4 linked regions of the Homo sapiens genome follow. The protein of the gene in region 2 purifies or fractionates together with the protein of the main gene of each other region. This does not show direct contact. Each region holds a gene or a part of one and is shown on either strand. Other genes may lie near its edges.

Evidence for each region. The genes of interacting proteins can lie anywhere in the genome.
Region 1: the proteins of SLC52A3 (region 2) and ABCB6 purify together in Homo sapiens (affinity purification with mass spectrometry; one large-scale study listed by BioGRID and IntAct). This does not show direct contact.
Region 3: the proteins of SLC52A3 (region 2) and SLC44A2 purify together in Homo sapiens (affinity purification with mass spectrometry; one large-scale study listed by BioGRID and IntAct). This does not show direct contact.
Region 4: the proteins of SLC52A3 (region 2) and NDFIP2 purify together in Homo sapiens (affinity purification with mass spectrometry; one large-scale study listed by BioGRID and IntAct). This does not show direct contact.

Annotation. Positions count from the first base shown.
Region 1 is NC_000002.12:219,211,556-219,216,420, reverse strand, and holds part of ABCB6 (ATP-binding cassette sub-family B member 6), read left to right. Parts: coding exon 1-57; intron 58-240; coding exon 241-424; intron 425-1,338; coding exon 1,339-1,460; intron 1,461-1,922; coding exon 1,923-2,032; intron 2,033-2,234; coding exon 2,235-2,300; intron 2,301-2,469; coding exon 2,470-2,595; intron 2,596-2,754; coding exon 2,755-2,831; intron 2,832-2,918; coding exon 2,919-2,982; intron 2,983-3,094; coding exon 3,095-3,180; intron 3,181-3,355; coding exon 3,356-3,413; intron 3,414-3,929; coding exon 3,930-4,034; intron 4,035-4,865. UniProt on the Homo sapiens protein: ATP-dependent transporter that catalyzes the transport of a broad-spectrum of porphyrins from the cytoplasm to the extracellular space through the plasma membrane or into the vesicle lumen.
Region 2 is NC_000020.11:761,500-765,981, reverse strand, and holds part of SLC52A3 (solute carrier family 52, riboflavin transporter, member 3), read left to right. Parts: exon of another isoform or gene 1-156; 5' UTR 157-207; coding exon 208-774; intron 775-1,978; coding exon 1,979-2,484; intron 2,485-4,157; coding exon 4,158-4,281; intron 4,282-4,482. UniProt on the Homo sapiens protein: Plasma membrane transporter mediating the uptake by cells of the water soluble vitamin B2/riboflavin that plays a key role in biochemical oxidation-reduction reactions of the carbohydrate, lipid, and amino acid metabolism.
Region 3 is NC_000019.10:10,623,667-10,629,412, reverse strand, and holds the start of SLC44A2 (choline transporter-like protein 2), read right to left. Parts: upstream 3,861-5,746; 5' UTR 3,780-3,860; coding exon 3,743-3,779; intron 3,161-3,742; coding exon 3,112-3,160; intron 1,692-3,111; coding exon 1,618-1,691; intron 1,494-1,617; coding exon 1,409-1,493; intron 1-1,408.
Region 4 is NC_000013.11:79,546,693-79,551,714, forward strand, and holds part of NDFIP2 (NEDD4 family-interacting protein 2), read left to right. Parts: intron 1-1,635; coding exon 1,636-1,702; intron 1,703-4,324; coding exon 4,325-4,428; 3' UTR 4,429-4,430; intron 4,431-5,022. UniProt on the Homo sapiens protein: Activates HECT domain-containing E3 ubiquitin-protein ligases, including ITCH, NEDD4, NEDD4L, SMURF2, WWP1 and WWP2, and consequently modulates the stability of their targets. As a result, may control many cellular processes.

The DNA of each region.
Region 1 (4,865 bases), on a different chromosome or scaffold from region 2:
CTGTTACCAGTTACGTCTTCCTCAAGTTCCTCCAGGGGGGTGGCACTGGCAGTACAGGTATGAGAGACTCCGCCCTCACCCTGCTAGGTATAGGTCCCTCCCACAGGCATTCCCTCAGCATCCGCCTCTCCCAGCATTCCTCCCCAGCCCCCATGTACTCTCAGACCTTTCACATCCTGGTGCTGGGCTGACGTCCCTCAGCTCCCAGGCCCTACTGAGGCGTCCCCCGGCTCCCTGCAGGCTTCGTGAGCAACCTGCGCACCTTCCTGTGGATCCGGGTGCAGCAGTTCACGTCTCGGCGGGTGGAGCTGCTCATCTTCTCCCACCTGCACGAGCTCTCACTGCGCTGGCACCTGGGGCGCCGCACAGGGGAGGTGCTGCGGATCGCGGATCGGGGCACATCCAGTGTCACAGGGCTGCTCAGGTGCCGCCCCAGTGGAAAGGGCATGTGGGAGGGTGGAGCCGGAGAAGCAGGGATAGGGGCCCGTGGGAGGAAGAGAACAGACCCCGCCTGAGAAGCTGCCGCTCCCACCTTGGTGTTTTTTAAAGTATAGGATTATTGTATACATGCTCTCCTAATAACTTAGGTAATGCGGGCAGAGGGCAAATCTCTTTCGAGCTGCACTTACTTTTTCAGAGCTTCCCACTCTGTTTAGTATGTTGGGTTCTGCTCTTTTTTTGAGACAGGGTCACGCTCTGTCACCCAGGCTGGAGTACAGTGGCATAATCTCTGCTCACTGCAACCTCTGCCTCCCGGGTTCAAGCAATTCTCCTGCCTCAGCCTCCTGAGTAGCTGGGATTACAGATGTGCACCAGCATGCCTGGCTAATTATTAGATTTTTTGTAGAAACAGGGTTTCACCATGTTGGCCAGGCTGGCCTGGAACTCCTAGCATCATGTGATCTGCCCACCTAGCATTCCAAAGTGCTGGGATTACAGTTGTGAGCCATTGTGCCCAGCTGGGTTCTGCTTTTTTGCATTTTTACATACATATTATATATGCAGACTCACAGAACTAATATGGCATTGTGGAGGTTTTTCCTAAAACAAATGGTATTGTGACATAGCCATCATTCTCAGAGTTGCTTATTAACAGAACATTATGGAGATATATTTTTCTTCCATGCCTGAAGGTCTCCCTCATTCATTGTAATTGATACAGAGAATTCTGTAGTTTGAGCATGGTTGATTTAGCCACCCACCTCTTGAGGGTAGAATTAATTAAGACTGGTTCCAGTCTGTTGCTTGAAAATAAAACACTACCCTGAAATGCCTAGAGGCAGGGTTGCTGGGTCTAAGCCCCCAGACCTTTCTTATTCACTTGACCTGCCCTCCTAGCTACCTGGTGTTCAATGTCATCCCCACGCTGGCCGACATCATCATTGGCATCATCTACTTCAGCATGTTCTTCAACGCCTGGTTTGGCCTCATTGTGTTCCTGTGCATGAGTCTTTACCTCAGTGAGTGCTGCTGGGAGACACCGTCTCCCTGAACTATCCAGGGACTCCCTTGGCCATGAGCTGTGCCCCCACTCAAGTGACCCACCTATGGGAGGCTGTGGATTGGTGGACTTGAATGGGCTCCTAGTGCTCGTCATGTGATGGGCGGGTCTCTTCTGTCAAATCAAACCTTAACCTAGCTGAGGGGCTGGGGAAGGACATTCTTGTCACGTTAAGTCTGAGCCGTGGACACAGGTCAAGGAAGCCTCGTTTGTGTAACAAGATGCAGCTTGCTTTCATTTACCAAAAGCGTTTTCTACACATGAGACTTTGTGCAGGCTGCAGAGGTGCCTCCCTGTGGAATCTGGGTGTCCGGGCTTGAGCATAGGCTTAGTGTGTACATGGCAGGTAGTGGACATTGACATTTGGTCTCTGCTTTTGGGGATGATGTCCTATTCTGCTCCCCATCCTGTCACTCTCCAGCCCTGACCATTGTGGTCACTGAGTGGAGAACCAAGTTTCGTCGTGCTATGAACACACAGGAGAACGCTACCCGGGCACGAGCAGTGGACTCTCTGCTAAACTTCGAGACGGTAACAGAGGGCCCGGTGGCAGTGGTGTGAGGCGTGGAGATGTGGAGGAGTGTAACCAGGACCACTGGGGCTGACAGAGAGCTGGGGGTGTGATGTTTGTGTGTGATGTTTGAACTCAGGAAGGAGGATTGAGAGTTGGGGGGAATGACCCGAGTGCCATGTGCTGTGCCCATGCCAAATAAATTTGGTTTGAATTCATCAGGTGAAGTATTACAACGCCGAGAGTTACGAAGTGGAACGCTATCGAGAGGCCATCATCAAATATCAGGTGAGGATGCTAGTTTGAGGCCTCCGGAGAATAATGCCCTGGCCTGGTAGAATTTTCAGGGCCAAGAGTGATAGTCGAGTGTTGGGGTAGAAGGGGCCTGGGCCCAGGTTTGGACTCACTGATGGCCATTGTGTATAGGACATTCCTCTTCCTGTGTTATTGCCCTCAGGGTTTGGAGTGGAAGTCGAGCGCTTCACTGGTTTTACTAAATCAGACCCAGAACCTGGTGATTGGGCTCGGGCTCCTCGCCGGCTCCCTGCTTTGCGCATACTTTGTCACTGAGCAGAAGCTACAGGTGAGGCAGGATCTTGGATGAGAGAGTGGGGCACAAGGAAAAGGGGGCCTGAGGCCTGTGTCTGGTCACCAGGCTCTTCGGTAGGAAGTGGGCAGGGTGACACAAGAAGAGCGGCCTGCAGGCCCCCCGTGACATGCTCTGCTTCCTTGATTGCCACAGGTTGGGGACTATGTGCTCTTTGGCACCTACATTATCCAGCTGTACATGCCCCTCAATTGGTTTGGCACCTACTACAGGTAATCTGAGCCCTGGCCCTCACCTGTCCAGGGCACATTATTATTTCCTGGCTACTCAGAGAAGTCCTAACCAGCACCTTTTTGCAGGATGATCCAGACCAACTTCATTGACATGGAGAACATGTTTGACTTGCTGAAAGAGGAGACAGAAGTGAGCGAAGGGAGAGGAGTAGGGTTTGGGGAGGGAGGAGCTGTGTGGTGTTTCTCGTGCTTGGAAAACACAAAGCTGAGAACCTCAGCACACATGGGTGGTGCCCTTCCAGGTGAAGGACCTTCCTGGAGCAGGGCCCCTTCGCTTTCAGAAGGGCCGTATTGAGTTTGAGAACGTGCACTTCAGCTATGCCGATGGGTGAGGCCTTCCTTTTGCTTCCTTTGCTTTTCCGTTCATTTGCACACTGCCTTCCTGCTTCTCAGTGCTCTGAATCCCTGCTTTTGGAAAAGAGCCTGGGCAGGGGAGGGGCAGGGCCTACTAGCAGCTCTGGTGATGGAAGGTGCCTGCTGAGCAACCCCACCTTTCCTTGCAGGCGGGAGACTCTGCAGGACGTGTCTTTCACTGTGATGCCTGGACAGACACTTGCCCTGGTGAGAGGAGACCCAGCCACTTGGCCCAGATGCCTCAAGCTTCCCTCATTCAGTGCCCATGGTAGCTTGTGACCCAGGCTGTGGAGTCAGAGAGCCCAGTCACGATAGGCAACCGGATTGAATGGTGCAGCCTCCATGGACACTGGTGACCTCTTGGAGAGGGAACCTCAAAAGCCAGTGGGCCTCGGCCGGCTGCGGTGGCACATGCCTGTAATCCCAGCACTTTGGGAGGCTTAGGTGGCCAGATCACCTAAGGTTAGGAGTTCAAGACCAGCCTGACCAACATGGTGAAACCCTATCTCTACTAAAAATACAAAAATTAGCCGGGCATGGTGGCGGGTGCCTATAATCCCACTACTAGGGAGGCTGAGGCAAGAGAATCGCTTGAACCTGGGAGGCAGAGGTTCTAGTGAGCTGAGATCGCGCCATTGCACTGCAGCCTGGGTGACGGAGTGAGATTCGGTCTCAAAAAAAAAGCCAGTGGGCCTGAGATTTTTCCCATTTCCAATGCAACAGGTGGGCCCATCTGGGGCAGGGAAGAGCACAATTTTGCGCCTGCTGTTTCGCTTCTACGACATCAGCTCTGGCTGCATCCGAATAGATGGGCAGGACATTTCACAGGTAGGGTTGCTCTGGAGAAGACGGTGGTTTAGGGGTCTACGTGTGGAGGAATGATAAGGGCTGGCTGTCCAGAGAGAGGAGATGTCACCCTTGCAAAAAAACTAGGGCCATTCTAGCATGATATAACCTACAGTCACACAAGTAAAGTAGTCATGTTAAGGATTTGTATGGTGCCATAAAAGCTACAAAGGGCTGGGCGCAGTGGCTCATGCCTATAATCCCAGCACTTTGGGAGGCCGAGGCAGGTGGATCACTTGAGCCCAGGAGTTCAAGACCAGCCTGGGCAACATGGCAAAACACCCTCTCTACAAAAAATACAAAAATTGCTGGGCGCGGTGGCTCACACCTGTAATCCCAGTACTTTGGGAGGCTGAGGTGGGCGGATCACAAGGTCAGGAGATCGAGACCATCCTGGCTAACACAGTGAAACCCCGTCTCTACGAAAAATACAAAAAATTTGCTGGGCGTGGTGGCGGGCGCCTGTAGTCCCAGCTACTCGGGAAGCTGAGGCAGGAGAATGGTGTGAACCCAGGAGGCGGAGCTTGCAGTGAGCCGAGATGGCGCCACTGCACTCCAGCCTGGGCAAGAGTGCAAGACTCTGTCTCAAAAAAAAAAAAAAAAATTAGCTGGCCATGGTGGCACACACATGTAGTCCCACCAGGAGGCTGTAGTGAGCTATGATCATGCCACTGCACTCCAGCCTGGGTGACAGAGCAAGGCCCTGTCTCAAAACAAAAAGCAAAACAAAAAAAAAAAAAAAAAAAAGGTACAACGATATTCTGTAGCCAGGTGTGGTGGCTCACACCTGTAATCCCAACACTTTAGGAGGTC
Region 2 (4,482 bases):
TGGACTAAAAGAGTGAAACTATGTCTCAAAGGAAAAAAAAAAAAGCCAGCTTGTTCACAGGAAGGGGAGTAATAAGAGAAAACTCTGGGCCCCAGGTCCCAGCATCTTGCTAGGTGGTGAAGCTGGAATTACTCACCTGGTGTCCTTCTCTGCCAGCCCCGCTGCAGGCTGATCTGAGAAAGCCTCTGGCCCAGGGCAGATACCGCCATGGCCTTCCTGATGCACCTGCTGGTCTGCGTCTTCGGAATGGGCTCCTGGGTGACCATCAATGGGCTCTGGGTAGAGCTGCCCCTGCTGGTGATGGAGCTGCCCGAGGGCTGGTACCTGCCCTCCTACCTCACGGTGGTCATCCAGCTGGCCAACATCGGGCCCCTCCTGGTCACCCTGCTCCATCACTTCCGGCCCAGCTGCCTTTCCGAAGTGCCCATCATCTTCACCCTGCTGGGCGTGGGAACCGTCACCTGCATCATCTTTGCCTTCCTCTGGAATATGACCTCCTGGGTGCTGGACGGCCACCACAGCATCGCCTTCTTGGTCCTCACCTTCTTCCTGGCCCTGGTGGACTGCACCTCTTCAGTGACCTTCCTGCCGTTCATGAGCCGGCTGCCCACCTACTACCTCACCACCTTCTTTGTGGGTGAAGGACTCAGCGGCCTCTTGCCCGCCCTGGTGGCTCTTGCCCAGGGCTCCGGTCTCACTACCTGCGTCAATGTCACTGAGATATCAGACAGCGTACCAAGCCCTGTACCCACGAGGGAGACTGACATCGCACAGGTACCCAGCATCACCCGGAGCCATCTCAGCACTTGGCTTTATCACAAATGTAGGGGAGGGAAAAACTGCTCACCTCCATCCTTCTAGGTTCTTTGGTCGGCCTATGAGTTAAACTGACATAAGGCAGATCAACAGCAGGAAACTCATTTTAATTACTTACATACATACGCATGGGAGTCCCCAAAAAATATGAGACTCAAAAAAGGGCCAGATGATTTCAGCTTCTATAGCATCCTGAGCTACAAAAGGGAATAGGGGCTTGAGGCTACTGCAGGATGGTGGAGACAAATTATGGGAGAGTGAAGGGAGGAAACTTATGGTGAATAAACATTGCACTGTTATGCAGATAAAAGTTCCTCGGGTGATAAAGGCCATCACCTTTCTCTTCCTGGTTCAGATACCCCTTCGTGGTACAGATACCTTTTCTTGGTACAGATAAGATAGCTTTACTAATAAAAATTTCCTTTAGATGTAAATTTATCTTACAAAATGGCAACTTTTCAGAGCTACTCCTTAGCCTGCAATTTTTCAAAATAACCAGCTAGAAATAAAAAATATGCCAATAGGTCAATTTTGGGGTGGCATATTCTGGCCTCCTACAGTCATATTTTGGGATGGCATGTCCTGAAGGCCCTTATTTCCTAGACGATGGGTGGAGCAGTGTTCTTCCTTAGGTGGGGGCTCTCCCCTTAGGTGGGGGATTCTCCCCTTAGGTGGGGGCTCTCCCCTTAGGTGGGGGATTCTCCCCTTAGGTGGGGGCTCTCCTCTTAGGTGGGCGGCTCCACTGCTCAGTCTCCAGCTAGCTCCTCCTCTGAACATGTTTGTGGTTGCCACTGCTGTGGGGTGATAAAAGGTGTAGCTTCCAAGTCAGAAAGCACCAGGTGGAGTCTGGCTTTGCCACATTCTCCCTGTGACCCTCAGGTAAGGGACGAAGCATTCTGATACCTCAGTTCCCTCTAAAATGGGGGATGATGGTGCCCACTGTGCAGCCCTGTTAGGAGGCATAGGGGCTTATCCATGCACAGTGCCCGTGCTCAGTGGGCAGTCAGTATGAGCAGTCATTATTGCCACCTTGTTAGTTATGTTTATTTATTCATTATCCATTAATAATAACAGGTGATCTGTATTCTGTTATCACTGTCATGATTGTTGTTCTGCAGCCTGATCCCCTCCCCTGACCAGGGATCTGTCTTGTCCTTTGCAGGGAGTTCCCAGAGCTTTGGTGTCCGCCCTCCCCGGAATGGAAGCACCCTTGTCCCACCTGGAGAGCCGCTACCTTCCCGCCCACTTCTCACCCCTGGTCTTCTTCCTCCTCCTATCCATCATGATGGCCTGCTGCCTCGTGGCGTTCTTTGTCCTCCAGCGTCAACCCAGGTGCTGGGAGGCTTCCGTGGAAGACCTCCTCAATGACCAGGTCACCCTCCACTCCATCCGGCCGCGGGAAGAGAATGACTTGGGCCCTGCAGGCACGGTGGACAGCAGCCAGGGCCAGGGGTATCTAGAGGAGAAAGCAGCCCCCTGCTGCCCGGCGCACCTGGCCTTCATCTATACCCTGGTGGCCTTCGTCAACGCGCTCACCAACGGCATGCTGCCCTCTGTGCAGACCTACTCCTGCCTGTCCTATGGGCCAGTTGCCTACCACCTGGCTGCCACCCTCAGCATTGTGGCCAACCCTCTTGCCTCGTTGGTCTCCATGTTCCTGCCTAACAGGTGTGCCCTCATCTGGTCCTAGGGAATCCTAGTGGGGGAACACTTCATTTCAGAACCCAGAATTCCAAACGCACCTACTGGGCTGTACATGTAGTGGTTAAGAACATGTTTGGGGAGCACCCTGGTCCAAATCCCAGCTCTGCCACCTGTCAGCTGTGTGTAAGACAAGTCACTTCAGTTCTCTGTGCCTCAGGGATATTTATCGGAAAATGGGAGTGTAACATTCCACCTCCTAGGACTGCTGGAAGCATGATATGAGCTGATTCTATAAAGCTCTTGGAGCGGTGCCTGGCACGTGGCAGGTCCAGCCTAAGCGTTGACCATCATTGTCATCAGTCCATGAGGAGGAGCAGATAGCCACTGAGGTTCCCGTTTATAAGGGGAAACCCTGAGGCTTGGAGAAAGAGCTTGACCTGGTCTAATTCCCAGGATTTCGGCCCTGCCTTCCTGCCTCTAACCTCCTGCTGGTTCCCTTAGAGCCACAGTTCTAGAAGAATGGCTGGGCAAGTTGATAAAATGCAGATTGAACCAGCCTAGACTGGGACCTGGGATTTCAATTTTTAGTAAGGAAACCAGACGGTTCTGAGGCAGGGGCTTCAGACCCCTGTAGGAGAACTACCACCTTGGGATCTTGACATTTGAGGTGGGTCCTACAGCCTCGTATCCACGCTGGCCTGCCTGTCCTCACTGGCCTGCTTACACCCACTCTCCCAGCCCAGAAGAAGGACAGTGAGGACAGAAGAGCTTGACAGAAAGCTTGCCAGGAAGCTGGATTTTCTACCTTGGGACCTAGAAACTGGAAAGAGGATGGAGGATTTGAGGGAAGCAGGACCAAAGGCTCAGACCTGCAAATCCAAGAAACCCCAAATGTTAGAATTACAGAATCTGAGTCATGGAATCCAAGAATCTTGGAGCAGAAAGAGTCTTTAAGGGTATAGGCAGACCTCTGTCTGTTCTTACCCAGGGCGTGGACCAGTCTTGGGGTTCTAGAGATTGGGACCCCAGGGACAAGGACCTGTGAGGAAGGACAGTGGTCCCAGATGTAGGTTTGCATGGAAGGCCACCTGTAGAGAGATGCTCCTAGCAGCAACAAGCCAGCTGCCAGGACCCCTGGAGATCAGCACACTCCACATTGCAGAGGCAGGTAGCTGAGGCCAGAAGGGGAGGGGTCTCCTGAGGAGGCACAGCAAACCCTACTGTGCCAATGCCCGATCCAGCCATCTTCACTTCAACTCAGCTTCCTGGCTGAGGCTGAGGGTGTGTTGCAGGAGGAAATGCCAGCAGGTAAACACCAGGTGGGCCCACAGCGGCGCCAGGCCTGCATGCTCTGCTCCTGGAGGTCATGCAGCCTTGCAAAACTCCGATTTGGAGGCTCAGAGGCGAGTCTCAGCTTAAACAGTAGAACTGGGATTTGAACCAGGACCATCCGGTGCCAGAGTCCATTATGTTTTTCTTGCCGGGGTGCCAGGCCCTGCCGTTAATGCTGGGGATGACTCAGGCCAGCCCTGCCTGCTCAGGAGCCTCCCTGACCCACTTGAGCCAGGCAACCTGGAATTTTCCACATGGGTCTAAACTAACTATGGAGACACTGGCCATCCACATGCCGCCCAGTGGGGCGGGGGGGTCAGAGGTCAGGCTTCTCACCTCCACTCACCTCCCCTACTTTCCTCTAGGTCTCTGCTGTTCCTGGGGGTCCTCTCCGTGCTTGGGACCTGCTTTGGGGGCTACAACATGGCCATGGCGGTGATGAGCCCCTGCCCCCTCTTGCAGGGCCACTGGGGTGGGGAAGTCCTCATTGTGAGTATCCGGCCGGTGGGGCTGCTCCCGCTGCGTACCCCTCACCCCTAGCCAAGGCCTGGGAGAGCTTGGGCGCGGCCCTTTCCAGCGAGCGGGGTCTGTGGGACCCTCCCGGGAAGCCCCAGGTGGGGGAAGCGCCCCTTCCTCATTTGGGAGTGGAGGCTTAGGGAATCGAGGTGACTGGTAGGCCTCTTCCCACCA
Region 3 (5,746 bases), on a different chromosome or scaffold from region 2:
CCAGCAACTCGGGAGGCTGAGGCAGGAGAACCGCTTGAACCCGGGAGACGGAGGTTGCAGTGGGCTGAGATTGTGCCACTGCACTCTAGCCTGGGTAACAAGAGCAAAATTCCGTTTCAAAATAATAATAGTAATAATAATAATAATAATAGTTTAAAAACTGCAGCATCAGCAACTCTATGCCAGGTGCCATTCTTTTTTTTTTTTTTGAGATGGAGTCTTGCTCTGTTGCCTAGGCTGGAGTGCAGTGGCACGATCTCGGCTCATTGCAACCTCTGCCTCCCAGGTTCAAGCAATTCTCCTGCCTCAGCCTCCTGAGTAACCGGGATTACAGGAACATGCCACAATGCCCAGCTAATTTTTTTGTATTTTTAGTAGAGACGGGGTTTCACCATGTTGACTAGGCTGGTCTTGATCCTCCCACCTCAGCCTCCCAAAGTGTGCTGGGATTACAGGTGTGAGCCACCACGCCCAGCGATGCCAGGTGGCATTCTAAGCTCTGTACATGTATTGGCACATCTAACCATCAAAATAGCCCCATGAGGGTGGGACTGTTATGATCCTCATTTTAGAGATGAGGAAAACGAGGTTCAGAGAGATTGAGACACCTGCCCTAGGTCACAGAGCCAGGAAGTGACGCCACTCAGGCTATGCTTGCTCTGTTGTCTCACCTGTTCATCACCACCTGACGCGTAATCCAGGACTGTCCCCTCTCAGTCTCTCCCGCCCTTAAAATGTGTGCTGCCAGAGAACAGGATGCTTACTATCTCATTTAGAGCTGTGTGTCCCCAAGGACTAGACTAGTGGCTGAGGGTAGTGGGACGTTTATCAGTACTTGTTTTCTTTTCTTGTTGTTTTGTTGAGACCAGGTCTCGCTCTGTCGTCCAGGCTGGAGTGCAATGGTACAATCATACCTTACTGCAGCCTTGGCCTCCCAGCTCAAGCTATCCTCCCACCTCAGCCTGCTGGGTAGCTGGGACTAGAGGTGTGCCCCACCACGTCCACTTAATTTTTGCTTGTTTGTTTTGAGACAGAGTCTCACTCTGTGCCCCAGGCTAAAGTGCAGTGGCACGATCTCGGCTCATTGCAACTTCTGCCTCCTGTGGTTCAAGTGATTCTCCTGCCTCAGCCTCCTGAGTAGCTGGGATTACAGGCATGTGCCACCATGCCTGGCTAATTTGTGTATTTTTAGTGGAGACGGGGTTTTGCCATGTTGGCCAGGCTGGTCTCGAACTCCTAGCCTAAAGCAATATTCCTGCCTCGGCCTCCCAAAGTGTTGGAATTTCGGGCGTGAGTCACCGCGCCCAGCCTATAAGCACTTGTTAACTGGACTTAGAGAGATGGGGAATGCCTAGAATCTTCTGCCCCCTCTTCCCCAGCCCCACCAGGCCGCAAGGAGTCAACTCACTCGTTTTTTGTGCCCTTCTGCCCGCAGAACTCGCCCCGGCTGTCAGTGGGGTAGATCACCTTTCGAGGGTCTCCATGAGTCCAGGCTGTGGAAAGATCCAGGGATACTGAGACACTGCCACTCCTCAGATCCAGCCCTGTTCCCACTCCAGAGGCCATGGCTGCCTCCGCCTACCCTGCAACTCCAAGTCCTGCTCATTCTCTACTCACCTATGATGCCTACAGCCACGTAGCCCACAATGGCCAGGAGCAGGAACACACAGCATATGATATCCGTGCAGCCCCTGGGGAGCAGAGGGGCAGTGTTTGGAGGAGGCTTGGTGCTGTGTGCACCATGGGCCCATCTGCCCTCTGCAAACACCCTCATCCATGTGTTATTTGGACAAATTTTCCTGAGTCGTTTGAATGCCGTACCAAAGGGCACATGCATTTTAATTTTTATTTCATTTCATTTTTTAATTTTGTGCAACAGAGTCTCACTCCGTCATCCAGGCTGGAGTACAGTGGCATGATCATAGCTCACTACAGCCTCGAACTCCTGGGCTCAAGTGATCCTCCTGCCTCAGCTTCCCAAGTAGTTGAGACTACAGGTGCACACCACCACACATTTTTTTTTTAATTTATATACATTCTGTAGAGACAAGGTCTCGCTATGTTGCCCAAGCTAGACTTTTTTTTTTTTTTTGAGAGGGAATCTCACTCTGTCGCCCAGGCTGGAGTGCAGTGGAACGATCTCAGCTTACTGCAACCTCTACCTCCCAGGTTCAAGCGATTCTCCTGCCTCAGTCTCCCAAGTAGCTGGGATTATAGGTGCCCGCCACCATGCCCAGCTAATTCTTGTATTTTTAGTAGAGACAGGGTTTCACCATGTTAGCCAGGCTGGTCTCGAACTCCTAACCTCAAGTGATCCACCTGCCTTGGCCTCCCAAAGTGCTGGGATTATAGGTGTGAGCCACCGTGCCTGGCTGTATTTTATTTTTTTGTTATTTTTTTTTGAGACAGAGTCTCGCTCTTGTCCTCCAGGCTGGAGTGCAGTGGCGCAATCTCAGCTTACTGCAACCTCCACCTCCCAGATTCAAGCAATTCTCCTGCCTCAGCCTTCTGAGTAGCCTCTGAGTAGTCACAGCTACTGGAGAGGCTGAGACAGAAGACGTGCTTGAACCAGGAGGGGAAGGTTGCAGTGAGCTGAGATTGCACCACTCCAGCCTGGGTGACAGAGTGAGACTCCATCTCAAAAATAAATAAATAAATAAATAAATATAAACATGGTAAAAATTAAGTCCAGGCCAGGTGTGGTAACTCACACCTGTAATCCCAGCACTTTGGGAGGCCAAGGCAGGTGGATCGCTTTGAGCTCACGAGGTCGAGACCAGCATGGGCAACACAGCGAAACATCTCTGCTAAAAGTACAAAAAAAAAAAAAAATTAGCCAGGTGTGGTGGTGCAAGCCTGTAATCCCAGCTACTTGGGAGACTGAGGTGGGAGAATTGCTCGAACCCGGGAGGCGAAGGTTGCAGTGAGCCGAGATTGAGATCGCGCCACGGCACTCCAGCCTGGTGACAGAGCAAGACTCCATCTCAAAAAAAAAAAAAAGTTTCAAATATTTGTCACCAGTTTGTTGGAGAACAGATGGGAGGGGGTGTGAAGAGACAGGGATTGGGGTAGTATTAGCGGGGAGAACCCCCCAAAACCCAGAGCTCTTACCTATTGTAAATGGGTCCTTTGAAAGTGGGATCATACTTCTGTGGCGTTCCTGAAAGTCAAGAAGATTAAGATGGATGGGATTGGAGACCTGAACCAAGACAGGGCTGGGAGAGCCCCCTCCCAAAAGCCCCTAGGGGTGTCTTTGCCTTGGCAAGAATAAAATTCAGAGACCTGTGGAATTTTCTGCCTCACCCACCTCCAGGTGACCACACCCAAGCCCCCAGTTCTGGCAGGCCAGGACAGGGGAGGAAGGAGGGATCACTAACTGTGAACAAACTTATTAACTGGCGGCCACCCACTGGGAAGAGGGCTGAAATGGTGACCACCACGGAACCAGGTGGAGATGGGGAAGATCTGAGGTGGGATAGGGGGAAGGAGGCGCCGGCAGCAGTGCCAGGCAGAGGGGTACAGGGGCAGGTCCTTCGGGTAGGGGAGAGTAAGGAGGGTCGTCTGCGAGGCTGCGGGGGATAAGTGGGGTGAAGGGGCCTGGCTGATGGTGGGGAGGCTCCAGGCGCAGATTTGCAATTGCGCTCCCCCTCCAGCCCCCTTCCCTGCGCCCCATGTTCTCTCAAGGCCCCCTCCGAGGGACCGAGGGGTCGGCCCGGGGCTACGGGCGGGGGTCGCTGCCTACCGTGTTTCCCGTAGTAGTGGGGCCGCTCGTCCCCCATCCCTGCAGGCGACCAGCCCCGGCGGCCGCCCGCGCTCTCTCCCGCGCCCCCTCGACCCTCCCGAGTCTGGAGGGAGGCACTGACCGCGCGACTGGCGGCGGCTCCTCCCAGCACAGCGCCAGGCGGGGCGGCCCAAACCGGTCAGACCGGCCCGAGCTGGGCAGCTGCCCAGACTAAGGGACCCGGGAGGGCGCGGGCGGGGCTGCAGCTGCTCCCGCCACTCACCGGCCGGCCGCATTTAGCCTTCCCCGCCCCCACCCGGGAACCCTGCGGCTTCACCCTGGGAACACCCTGCCACCGGGCGATGCCGCCTAGAACCCCTGGCCACCCTGAAAGGGCGTTTCCGTGGCTTCGTTTTGCAGGTGTGGAAACTGAGGCACTGGGAGGGAAAACGGCCTACTGCCCAAACCCAGACAACCAACTGTGGAATGTTGGTGCTGAAAACTTCTCCAAGCTGTGCAGGAAATTAGTTTTCTTTCTGTCTGCTGCTTTTTTTTTTTGAGACAGGATCTCCCTCTGTTGCCCAGGCTGGAGTGCAGTGGTGCAATCACAGCTCATCGCAGTCTCGACCTCCCTGCCTCAAGCCATCCTCCTGACTAAGCCTCCTGAGTAGCTGGGACTACAGGTGCTCTACTGCACTCGGCTAATTTTTAATTTTTTTTGTAGAGATGGGATGTTGCTATGTTGCCCAGGCTCATCTTTAACTCCTGGACTCGTGGGCTCCTCCCACCGTGGCCCCCCAAAGTGCTGGGATTACCTGCGTGCACTACTGGGCCTGGTCTTAGAACAAGTATTTATTCAGCCCTTAGTGGGTGCAGGCCTTGGGCGGGGCACCGCATACAGTGAGGAACCAGAGAGACCCAATCTCCACCCTTGTGGAGCCCACATCCTCCTGGGTCGCCCTGAATTCAAATGCTCCTTCTGCACCCTCTGAACTAGAGGATACTTAACAAAGGGCTTATCTTCCTTAAGCCTCAGTTTCCTCAACTGCAAAATGAGGCTAAAGTATGAAACCAAAACTGACCTCAAAGAGCAGGCATAGGCCAGGTGCAGTGGCTCATGCCTGTAATCCCAGCACTCTGGGAGGCTGAGGCAGGTCGATCAGGATTTCTAAGCCAGCCTGGCCAACATGGTGAAACCCCTTCTCTACTAAAAATACAAACATTAGCCAGTGTGGTGGCACATGCCTGTAATCCCAGCTACTTGGGAAGCTGAGGCAGGAGAATCGCTTAAACCCAGGAGGTGGAGGTTGCAGTGAGCCAAGATTGCCTCACTGCACTCCAACCTGGGGGACAGAGTGAGACTCTGTCTCCAAAAAGAAAAAGAAAAAAGAAAATAGGCTGGGTGTGGTGGCTAACACCTATAATCCCAGCACTTTGGGAGGCCGAGGTGGGCGGATCATGAGGTCAAGAGATCGAGACCATCCTGGCCAACTTGGTGAAACCCCGTCTGTACTAAAAATACAAAAATTAGCTGGATGTTGTGGTGTGCACCTGTAGTCCCAGCTACTTGGGAGGCTGAGGCAGGAGAATCACTTCAACCCGAGAGGCGGAGGTTGCAATGAGCCGAGATCGTGCCACTGCACTCCAGCCTGGGTGACAGAGCGAGTGTCTCAAAAAATCAATCAATCAATAAATCAAAAATTAGCCGGGTGTGGTGGTTCATGCCTGTAATCCCAGCACTGTGGGAGGCCGAGGCGGGCAGATCACTGAGGTCAGGAGTTCAAGACCAGCCTGGCCAACAAGGCAAAACCCTGTCTGTACTAAAAATACAAAAATTAGCCAGGTGTGGTGGTGGGCACCTGTAATCCCAGCTACTGGGGAGGCTGAAGTAGGAGAATCGTTTGAACCTGGGAGGTAGAGGTTGCAGTGAGCCGAGATTATGCCACTGTACTCCAGCCTGGGCGACAGAGCGAGACTCCGCCTCAAAAAAAAAAAAAAATACAATACAATAAAAATAGAGACAGG
Region 4 (5,022 bases), on a different chromosome or scaffold from region 2:
CACTAGGGAGTAAATAAGAACTAGTTTTATGGTAAACATTTTTGGTGAAGAATGACTGTTCTTGATGTTCAGGTTACCTGTTACTGGGTAACACGCAGAAATTTAAAAAATGTATTGCCTTTGTTCTTTATTCTTTTTTGTTCTTACAGCCTTTAAGACCTATATGAAAATGTTGTATTTCTAACTGTTAATCACTTGACTAAAAAATAGTATAGTACCATCCTGTATAAGCTGTATCTTTTCAATTTCAAGTCCCTCCTTCATTGTACATATATTTTAAAGATGTAGGTGTACATGGGATTTATGTTTTTAGTAGTACTTTGAAATTTTAAATCTCTGAAATTACTATAAATTTTAAAAAATTACTATAAAATTTAAAATATGAAATTACTATAAATACTGAAATTACTATAAATGGTTTATTTATTAATTGGAAATACTTCCTGAGAAAATACTTAAAAGGCTATAAAAAACAGACTTAGATAATCTTTATTTGATATGCTTACTAAATGATAACATTATTTACAATTTGTAAGCATTTTTTATTTTTGCCACAGCCTAGGATTTTTAAGCTTATATAGAAATTACCAACAAATAATTGGAAATCTTTACTTATAAAGTTACAAATACTTTTAGTTAGTATTAGATTTGAGAGCAAGTCTGCATTTAGTGGAATCATTTTTAGTTACATCAGATTCAGTTTGCAGACCAGTGGAAACAGGGTGGGTAAACACAAGCTAATTTTTAACAGTTTTAGAGTAGGTTATATTAAACACTTTTTAAAAAGTAATCATTTGAGGCATTGTTTTAGGTGCTAAAGTTATCTGAAGTAACTGAAGAAAATTAGATTGATTTTTTAAAAAACCTTTTAAAATTAATGAAGTGTGATGTCTAGAGTCTAATCAAGGAAAGGATAACTGTGTCCAATATCATCAAATTCTGCCTTCCATCTGCCTGTTCATATTCCCACACCACGGAGAATATAAAACTGTCTACCATGGCCACTAATAGGAACTGTTGAAATGCCACTTTAAGGTTCATTTAGCTGTTCTCAGCTCTCTGTTGGGAACTGAATGCTAGAGCATCTAGTTTGAAAATAAAAAGACTCTAATGGGGGTCTTTATGCACCTAGTATTTTTGGCAGTGATTAACAGTAGGGGGTGTACAGAAGGTCAAAAGCTCTTCTTTTGGAGGTCAGCAGAACACCCCCATCTGATAAGATTAAACTAATGTGGCTTTTGGTGTTAATATCTGAAGCAGCGGGTTGCTGTAGTGTGTTTGGGATGGTAGTTGTGGTTTTGAGAGATTATGAAAAAAGGACTGACGTGAAATTTCTAATAAGAAAATGTGTGATTCAGACATACAGCATTTACTGTTTCTTGCGGGGAGTTTGAAACTGGTTTTTGTTTCTAAAAATACTCCAATTTTTTTTTTGCTATTGCATAAGATGATTTTTTCTCAAATAATTTATATATGTGTATGCTGTGTATGCCATTAAGTGTTTTTATTTTTCCTTTGTGCCATTTTTAAGTGTTAAAGATTATTTGAAGTAAATCATTATGAAACTGAAGATAATTTATGATTTTCAAATTCAGGTGTATGAATTCGGTTAATATATTTATGTTCACTCCATAGTTTTCTGATTATTTTACTGGATATTTCAATGGACAGTATTGGCTTTGGTGGATATTTCTTGTACTTGGTAAGTTTATTCTTAATGCATTTAGTTTAACTTGGATATTTCCAAAAACTGTAAGATGTAAATAAACTGTGTTGCAATTTATGTGGAAATTATTTTTCTTCTGTAAAATTCTCATATTCAAACACATCATCTCACGTTTTTAAACTATTCTATATAGCACTACAGATTTCTTAGATTTAAAATCCAGAGGCTATCAGTGTAAAGAGTCAGTGGCGGGATGATAATTGAATGCTAAAAAATTTTAAAATAACAACGTGATAAAAAATTGTCTTTAGCATTTATCTCAGAAAACATACACAAATGACTTCTTTTAATGATCTTAGGAAATTTGAGAGTTGGATAGTTTGGTTGTTCTATCTGTTCTCTTATTTTTTGATCATGGAAACATTCTTTATGCTTTTGAAATGTGCCTTGAATTAATCATTAATCAGCCAGGCATAAGGAAAGGCTTTATGCCTAATGATCACAGTGCTTCTGTTGAGTTGTCTTCCTATAAGACGTGTCTTTTTATTAATATTGATGGAATTTTATGGATTTTCAATTTTTGTTCCCTTTTGTTTTTTACCTTCAATGTGAGATAATTAAGTTAATCATTAAATCACATTATATCTTTAATCCACATTTCAGATGTATTTGCTGACATAAGGAATACCTTTTGTTTCTAGTTAAGAGTAAAAGCCCATGTTTCACTCAGAATTTTACCAGAAAATAACAGCATTTCAGTAGGTGGCAGTCTTCTCTCTGAGTTTTTATTTAGTCATACTGTTGGATCTTTAGGATCTTTTGGGAAACAAATTATTGTTAGTCAGATAAGGTCACTTAATTCTTTAATAGCTATATTGAAATTATTTTAGTGTTGTGACTTTGTTGAGATGCATCTGGAGGTGAAGCCAGTTTTATATTATGTGTTCTAACTGCCTGAATGCCGTGTTCTTTATTGAGTTTCTTACCTAAAAGTGAGAAGGTTTATAAAGTCTATTAAGTATTTAAGCATATTAAATGAGTACATTTGTGTGTATATATATATTATTTAGAGATTGGAGGAATCTTAAGGAGGTTAGTGTGGGGCAGAGTAGAATACAGAGGACAATGCCAGTTCCACTTCAGAGCCATAATCTAGTGTTTATTTATTTAGGGGAATGTGAAAATGTAATCAGTGATAAAAATGTTGCTCTCACATATGCTGAAAAGAATGTTGAGCACTTTGTAGAATGCTGAGAAACAGTAGCCACTGAGCGATTGGTTTTTAGGTATGAACTGGGTGGCTTCTTTTAGAAAATGCCTGAGAAGTAAAATGTGTGTTAGAAAACAGCAGCTTTAGAGACAAAGGAAGGGATCCCACAAATAAGTTGGTTTACATTTTTCAATAATATTTTTACATTTGGATAACAGTATTATTATCTTTGAACAGCATCTGGAAGGGCATGAGGGTGGAATTCAGAAGGAGTCCCAAAAGGAGGGAGTTAGGATATGGGAAGCAGATGCGATTGGGTTTAGCTGTAATTTATACCATTTAAGTCATCATTTGTATCTCTCTTCTGTCTTTCCTCTCCAATTTACTACACACATGCTTCTTGTTTTTAGTGATTTGATTACTGTCTTGCAGTTGGGGTACAAATTTAGTTTGAGACTTCATATTTTAAATTCACAAACTCCTTTTCCTCCTGGTGAGGAAAGTCATACACATACAGTAGATATCTTCTGTTTTTGTTTTTGGATCCCCCCCACCCTGTTTTCCTGGTTAAAAATTTGCTGGAGTTAATAAATGTTTCCCTAAGAATCATATGCTTAAGTATTTCAAAGGCTTATACTAGTAATGGTAATGTTTTATACTTATCTAATATTTTTTATGTGAAACTTTAGAGAATTTTACAGGTATTGCTTTTTAAATTATTAAATATATTTGTGGTTGTTATTTTAAAATACTACTTTACAAAGGAGAAAACTGAGGTAGATATAAGATGTATCCCAAATAATCTAAATCATTAGAGTGACTGTCTTCCAAGTTGTCTTTTCTAACTCATCTTAATTTTTTATTATAAGTTAGTTTTTTATTATTACTTCAAAATAAGAACTCATAATTAAAAATATGTACATAATGCACGTATCTTCAAATACAGATTTCACAGATGACAGGCACTTGATATTACTATACAGGCTTATTGTTTTTTTCCTCATAATTGTTAGTAACCTCATGTATATATTTCCTTTTTATCTACTTTATATAAATAAATATGTCTTAGTTCACCCAGTAGTTATATTAATTGAAAAGATTGAGCCCATGGGTTCAATGGGGTTTTTATGAGTTGAATCAGTTTAAGTGCGTCAGGTAACTTTACTATTGAAGAAAATCACTTAAATGTATATTTTTATGTAATTCTGGATTTTTATAGCTAGATTTGCTTTAATTTTGGTACATCTAGGCTTAACAAATTGAAAAATTGTATTTCCTTGTGACAGAGTTTATCCTTATAGTGTAAAATATATTACAGAAATGAATGGAAGTCTGCAAGTAAAATTCCTTAAGCCAAGAGGATCTTGTTTATAATTGTCTACTTTAAATTTATCTTGCCCTTTTCTGTATAAAAACATAGTATATCCATATTATTTCAACCTTCTCAGGCCTGCTCCTTTTCTTCAGAGGATTTGTTAATTATCTAAAAGTCAGAAACATGTCTGAAAGTATGGCAGCTGCTCATAGAACAAGGTATTTCTTCTTATTGTAGAGGTAAGAAATATTAATCTGTGAACTCTGCCTATTCCCTTTATGTATTCAAATTTGCCAGATACATATTAAATGCCTAATGTGTATTCATGATTTTTACTGTTAGCATATTTAATATTTTTTAATACTGCTAACAGTCAGCTTATTGAAATTTGATAAGTCATAGACCTTTTTAGATAACTTTTAGATTTTTAAAATTGAATTTCATAAATTTTAATTTTTAAAATACATAGCGAGTGAACTGAAATTTTGAATCAGACTTTTAAAACTTCTCTTTAAAGATTAACCATAGAATGTATATGAAGTAACCACCAGCACAAAATTTGAAGGCTTGAAAAAACAAAATATGACATAGTACTTAGACCGAAGGAATGAGCATTTTTGTCTAAAACAATATGAAATTCACATAGACATCTGGTGGAGAAAAAAATCTGATTGAAAAACAATTTGTCTTGCAGTCCTTTTAACAGTCTGGATTAAGGAATAAAAGTCATGTGAAGAAAATAGTTCTGTTATTGTTTTCTTAATGTGTGCTGATTTTTTATCAACTATGAAGGCTACAACTTGAATAAGTAGGAATATGAAGAAATGAGTA